Homo sapiens: one gene and its partner. The protein of the gene in region 1 purifies or fractionates together with the protein of each later gene. This does not show direct contact. Each region holds a gene or a part of one and is shown in the gene's direction. Other genes may lie near its edges.

Region 1 (3,500 bases):
AACCCGGCCCCATTCTTCCTTCACATCTGAATAGCTTCATTGATGAGAACCCCTCGGGATTACCTATAGGGGAGGCTTTAGGTAAGTTCTATTACTGCCAGATGTGAAAATTCAGAGATTACTTAACATGACTTGGACTGTATAATATCATTTTGGGTTAAGATTGAATTGTTTCTTCAAATAATGCTAGCAAAACCCCCCCATTTAGTGTGATAATCAGAAACTAGTTCTAAATGCTGTATGATAGTATCCAGTGGATGTCAGGATCATCATTATGTAAGTGAGGAAGAGTTGTCATCATCATCACCATAACTGATTTCTGGCAAATTTAGAAAACATTTACTTCTTACCAAAACCAAATTTGTAGCTACGTCCTTTGTCTTTGTGGAGAAAATATGTTAGTAAAAAACTTTAAATAATGAACTTGAAACCCCAAATTCATAAAAAATTTTTCACAAATATTTTTGCAGATCGTATACATGGGAGTGTCGCTCTGGAAACATTAAGGCAGCAGCAGGCACGGTTCCAGCAGTGGAGCGAGCATCATGCCTTTCTCAGTCAGGGCAGCGCTCCATACCCACACCATCACCATCCTCACCTCCAGCATCTTCCTCAGCCGCCCCTGGGATTACATCAGCCGCCAGTGAGGGCAGACTGGAAGCTCACCAGCAGTGCCGAAGATGAAGTGGAGACCACATACTCAAGGTATTCCAGCGGACTGAAAATAGCCCCTGGAATGCGACCCCCTCACTGTTCTCTTTTTTGACTGTAGTCCTTTTAGCTTCAAGCTGGAATATTGCCTCAGAGAAATTGGATGCTGGCCTTCCAAGCACACGCTACACAGTTCTCTTGTTGACTCTAAAATACAGAAAACTCATTTAGAAGTAACTCTTCTACAAATTTAGGCATGGATGATCTACTATGGGTTGGAAATTAACTTGTTCCCTTACTTTGTGGTCTTTTCTGCGAGAGAAACATACCATCACTGTGAGCAGCTTTTTTTATTTAGTAGTAATACTTGCAAAGAATGAATAAAGACAGGAGTAAATTCGTGGTTAAAAGCTAAAAATTATATCATTAATTATTTTTATGGTGGCACAGAATTCTACATTCCTATAATTCCAGCTACATATGAGTATTTGGTCCTAACTCTAAGCTTGTTTTTGTGGCCAGTGTCACATGAATGCTCTGAAGTGTTTCCTAATCCCTTCTGAATAAGGTCCACCATCATGGTGACCTTTTATAACTTCCAGTTGTCAAAGCTGTATAGAGACAAGGACAGATGTTTTTAATACAATGGGAACAGAAAGAAATCAGGTAATTGAGCATATTTAATTTCTTCACCTCAGCATCTATTGAGTGTTAATGCTTACATCTGAGATGAATTAATGCCAGTTCTAGTTATTAGTACTATGATTTTGTTTGTTGAAAATACATGTGTAGTTGACTAAGCTTTCCTTAATGTGATGGAGCCTTTTGTTTTCTCCTCATATTTTATTGTTTTCATGTAGGTTTCAAGACTTAATCAGAGAACTGTCTCATCGTGATCAAAGTGAAACACGGGAACTAGCTGAAATGCCACCACCTCAATCAAGACTTTTGCAATATAGACAAGTACAGAGTAGAAGCCCACCAGCAGTCCCATCTCCCCCATCCAGTACAGACCACAGTAGCCACTTTTCTAACTTTAATGATAACAGCAGAGACATTGAAGTAGCCAGCAACCCAGCATTTCCACAGCGCCTCCCACCCCAGATATTCAACTCACCTTTCTCGTTGCCATCTGAACACCTTGCCCCTCCTCCCTTGAAATACCTGGCACCTGATGGAGCATGGACTTTTGCTAACTTGCAACAGAATCACCTAATGGGGCCAGGTTTTCCCTATGGCCTACCTCCATTGCCTCACAGGCCACCGCAGAACCCTTTTGTACAAATACAGAATCATCAACATGCTATTGGTCAAGAGCCATTTCACCCATTGTCATCTCGAACAGTATCTTCTTCTTCGCTCCCTAGCTTAGAAGAGGTAAATGTCTTCTTATTTTCCTTTTGTTATTAGCTGATTGTGAAAAATATCAGTATTTATTGATTTGATAATAGGAAGGCACAGATCTTATTGAATTTAACAGCGTATTAAAGATAATCCTTTCTTGGGAATTATTTTAATTGCCACCCTCCTATTGTATTTCAGGTTTTGTAAAGTGGACACTTTTGTTGAAACATGAAGCCCCTTAAAAGTCTTTTATTGCTGTTTAAAGAAAATATTGAATATCTGAGGACTCTATTCAAGGAGCTTTGTCTTTTTTTAATCTGAGGAAATGGCTTTTAGTGATTCTTCTTTTCGCTTTAAGTTACATGTGTTAATTATAAATTTGTTAATGAGAACTTTCCAAAGATGCTGGCTTTTCAGCCAGTGCCAGCTCCAAGTGCTGTGCTCCTTCTCCTGCCACTCAGCCTGGTGCTTTGTTAGACCCAGGGACTCTGATTCCCAAATATCAGAATTTGCAGATTTTTAACATAAAATTGACTGTGCTAAACTAAGCATTTTAAGTTAAACTGAATTTTATCTTAAAATACTTAGATATTTCTGCCGGGTGCAGTGGCTCACGCTTGTAATCCCAGCACTTGGGGAGGCCGAGGCGGGCAGATCACGAGGTCAGGAGATCGAGACCATCCTGGCTAACACGGTGAAACCCCGTCTCTACTAAAAATAGAAAAAATTAGCTGGGCGTGGTGGCGGGCGCCTGTAGTCCCAGCTACTCGGGAGGCTGAGGCAGGAGAATGGCGTGAACCCGGGAGGCTGAGCTTGCAGTGAGCCAAGATATGCCACTGCACTCCAGCGTGGGCGACAGAGCAAGACTCTGTCTCAAAAAAAAAAATAAATAAATAAAGTAAAATACTTAGATATTTCTAAAGAGCATCTTTATGGACTTTTTTTTCCTATGAAAAACTTAGTAATTCCAGGTTATAAAACTTCCAAAGCAGTACCATGTGGTGTAGGCTACAAAAATGTCTAGCTGATCCCATTAAATTTGCAGTGATTAAAGATAAAAATGTGTAAAGCCGGTTGTAGTCATATCAGACAGAGACATCTTAAATCAGGATAAAGATTTCTAATTTTGATATATGAAAAATACTTTTTTGATATTAGCTTCATTTTGGCAGTTTCAGAATGATATCTAAAGGCCATTAGAAATAATTGATTCACATTTTACAAGTTGCCTGCTATAGATGCTAATTAAAAGTCAAGATTCATAGGGAAAGCTGTATGTCTTATTTGTAGGGATTTAGAGGCAGTCTGTTCAAATTGTCCCAGTATTCATTGATTGGCTCATTCTGTATAGCTGTCATTAAAACAACTTACTGTGATTTTAGGCTCTTAAAGTAAGTTAGAAGCACAATAAAGATGAATTGGTATCTACATATATGTATTGTGAGGATCTAGAATTTTGGAACCATACTTTACAAAAATTTGGCACACATCTGACAGTCTTTCAG
Region 2 (3,500 bases), on another chromosome or scaffold:
AATTAAGTTGGGCTTAGATTTTCACTGTTTCTCTAATAAAAATGAACTCTCGCCCTAGTGGCACAGAGTCTGTACCTTGGAAACAATCTCAGGCCATGGTGGCCCTCATATCACCATGAGTTCTTGCCATGCGGCTTAGGGTTTTGAATGGTGAGGCTTGACTAAGAGACCAACTTCAGGATGTATGTCCTGCTCGCTTTGACCCTTATCACTTACAGTGTTGTATAGGAAACCAGGCAAGGTGTCTTCCCAGTCTGCAGGAAAGTGGTGCATCTCAGAGTGATGGCTTCTGGCGATCAGCCGGGAATGAGCCCCTTCTAAGCAACGTGGGCCTTTGTGTCCTCCTCTTCCAGGATTATCAAGTATAAATGACACCCACGACACCTACCCTTCTCCAACAAATGGAGATGATTCTTCCACCCGATTCCCTCTTTATTTTGGAACCAAATCAAAAGCCAAAAAAAAAAAAGATGTCCCTGTAAGGGTGGCAGAATTAGTCTTCTGAGTTGTCTTTTATAGTATGAGTGAGGATAGCACAATTGCTAAGCATCTTCATCTTTGCCCTAAATGATTGCCTTGCCCTCTGTCCTAACTCTTTCTCTTCCTTTGCCCCTCTCAACTTTGTGTTTTGTTCCCTTTTAGAATGGTGGTTTGGCCTGGAGTGATGATGCAGATGGAGGCCGGGGAAGAGAGATCTCTCGAGATTTTGCCAAGGTCTGTAATACTTCCTTTGTGATACAGATAGGGGCAGTTCTGCAGTGGCTTGTTACAGCTGATTCCCAAGAAATAAGGACCAAGGTAGCCAGTGAGTTGCATTTGTAGTGATTCAGATGGTCATAGTATATCTGGTATAAGACTTCAGCAAGATGGAATTTTTCACTGTGTGTTTTTCTTGGGGGATTGGGATTGCAGCTGTATGAACTGGACGGTGATCCTGAAAGGAAAGAGTTCCTGGATGACCTCTTCGTCTTTATGCAGAAGAGGGGTGAGTGTGCATCTACTCATCATTCCAATTCAGGGAATACTGATAGAGTGCCTACTGTGTGCTAGTCACTGTTAGACATCCTGGCCCACTAATCCTCATCCAGGAGGAGAAGAGGCATTTACTGCCAGTTGGTTCTGGATTTAGCCAATTAACCGATAGCCAGATTGAAGAGGACAGAGAAGGTGTTGGCACAAAGTAGATGGAATGATCGTCCACTTTTGGCCCTGCCTGATTTTGTCTCTTCTTCCAATTGACTGGTCTCTGGAGTCACTTCAAATTCAAATATGCCTTTTTTAAGCCTTAAAGCTACCCTGGACTTCACTTAATCTAGCATGTGGGCCTTCTTGTTGGCATATCTAGTCTCATGGAGAAAGGTAAGTGAAAGAAAAGAGGCCCCTCAGGATATTTTGGAAGGGTCTGAAATGATCCATGGAAAGAAAAGGCCAACACTTTCTTCTTACCCATTGGCTTTCGATGTTTGTATTTGCTGGCTTGGTTAGAACATTCCTGCAGTTTAATAGTCAGGTACATAGGCATCTGCCTTTTTTTTTTTTTGAGATGGAGTCTCGCTCTGTTGCCCAGGCTGGAGTGCCATGGTGTGATCTCAGCTCACTGCAACCTCTGCCTCCCGTGTTCAGGCAATTCTCATGCCTCAGCCTCCCAAGTAGCTGGGACTACAGGCGCGTACCACCACACCTGGCTAATTTTTGTATTTCTTTTTTCAGTAGAGTTGGGGTTTCACCATGTTGGCCAGGCTGGTCTCAAAATCCAGACCTCAAGTGATCCACCTGCCTTGACCTCCCAAAGTACTGGGATTACAGGCATGAGCCACCGCGCCCAGCCGGCATCTGCTTTATAATGCACCCTCCCAATTCTCTTTCCTTCTCTCCTCACTCTGCACATCCCCAAGAGCCATCTTCACTGTAGACTATGGTGTGACTGAGTTTAGAGCTGAGTGACTCAACTTCCTGGCTTTGTATTCAGTCATAGCAATGGGTTCACCAGCCAGGTCAGCCCTCAGAACACATGGCCAGCACCCCAGCCTCTCTAGGAGAAGGCCTTCAGCAACCTGTGTGGCTCCACCTTCGTCACCCTCAGGACAAAACCATAGGAGAGAGCTACTCCCAGTAGCCTGCTCCCAGCATCCTGTTATAGCTGATCATGCATCCCTTGGTGCCTGTGTCAACAACTTTATTGAGACCTAAGAATGAAATCTTCCTCTTTATCCTGGGCCAAGCTGTAATGGCAGCCCCCAGCAGCTAAATATTCTAAGTTAACTTCTCTCTCTCTCTATTTCCCTCCTTCCTCCCTACTCCTTTACCTTTGGCAGCCTTATTGCCTTCTTGGTGTAGCCTGCCTGTTACTGTTGGTTTGCGTAAAAAAGGCAATCGAAAGTTTTGAATCTTGGTTTTCCCCAGTCTCTAAGCCCATCAAAGCAATCTGAGCAGCCTTAATTAGTTTGCTCCTCCAGCTGTTACCTGGAACTGCATGTGTCAGTAAAAAACAATATAATCCTGAGGCTGGGCGCGGTGGCTCCTGCCTGTAATCCCAGCACTTTGGGAGGCCAAGGTGGGTGGATCAGGATGTCAAGAGGTCGAGACCATCCTGGCCAACATGGTGAAACCCGTCTCTACTAAAAATACAAAAATTAGCTGGGCATGGTAGCGCGTGCCTGTAGTTCCAGCTACTCAGGAGGCTGAGGCAGGAGAATTGCTTGAACTCGGGAGATGGAGGTTGCAGTGAGCCAAGATTTCACCACTGCCCTCCATCCTGGCGACAGAGCGAGACTCCATCTCAAAAAAAAAAAAAAAAAAAGAATATAATCCTGAAAGATAATGTGACTGGCAGCAATGAACCTCCCCGTTTGCCCTGAGAGAGAAATCCACTTAATACTTTGGTCTCCCCTTCCAATTACCTTTTAATTATTTACAAGCTCCACAAGCCCAGCTGGTGCAAACCCAGGAGCTGATCCTGTCTCAAAGGGGCTGCCATAGCAATATAGATTTTAATCAGCAGTGGAGCTCCACTGCTTTATTTTCCACTTTATTGTTTTTCTCCCTTCCCTGAAGGATTTTTAAAGGAAAATGGAAGTGAGATCAGCCAAGCCGATTGTGAAGATCAGTAATTGTTTACTACTATATGTCCCCACTAGACTAGGAGCTCCTCAAGGAGGGCCACTTTGTCATTCTTTCATGTCCCCAGTGCTAGCACAGGGCCAGGCAGGAAGGTGCTCAGGACATGTTTGCTGTGTGAGCAGTCTTGTTGGTTTTCCTGGCTCAGATTGCAACATGCAGGGTATTCAAGCTGCCTTGAGGTTTGGGTGCATCTGTGTCCTTCAGCCAGCTGCCCCGTAATTGAGAGTCAGCAGTAGAGAACAGTCTTTGCTGCATATCCTGCTGTTCTGTGGCAACTGGGACTGCCAGATTGCCATCTAGTATATTTCTGAGTGAACCCAAAGCAGGAGTGAGTGACTCCCTTTGATAATGTCACTTTATGATTCTTCAGGTCCTGAGTA

Evidence for each region.
Region 2: the proteins of HELZ (region 1) and ARID3B purify together in Homo sapiens (affinity purification with mass spectrometry, with the first as the bait; one large-scale study listed by BioGRID). This does not show direct contact.

The regions. Positions count from the first base shown.
Region 1 is NC_000017.11:67,105,697-67,109,196, reverse strand, and holds part of HELZ (probable helicase with zinc finger domain), read left to right. Parts: coding exon 1-81; intron 82-470; coding exon 471-705; intron 706-1,511; coding exon 1,512-2,028; intron 2,029-3,500. UniProt on the Homo sapiens protein: May act as a helicase that plays a role in RNA metabolism in multiple tissues and organs within the developing embryo.
Region 2 is NC_000015.10:74,572,220-74,575,719, forward strand, and holds part of ARID3B (AT-rich interactive domain-containing protein 3B), read left to right. Parts: intron 1-642; coding exon 643-714; intron 715-912; coding exon 913-985; intron 986-3,500. UniProt on the Homo sapiens protein: Transcription factor which may be involved in neuroblastoma growth and malignant transformation. Favors nuclear targeting of ARID3A.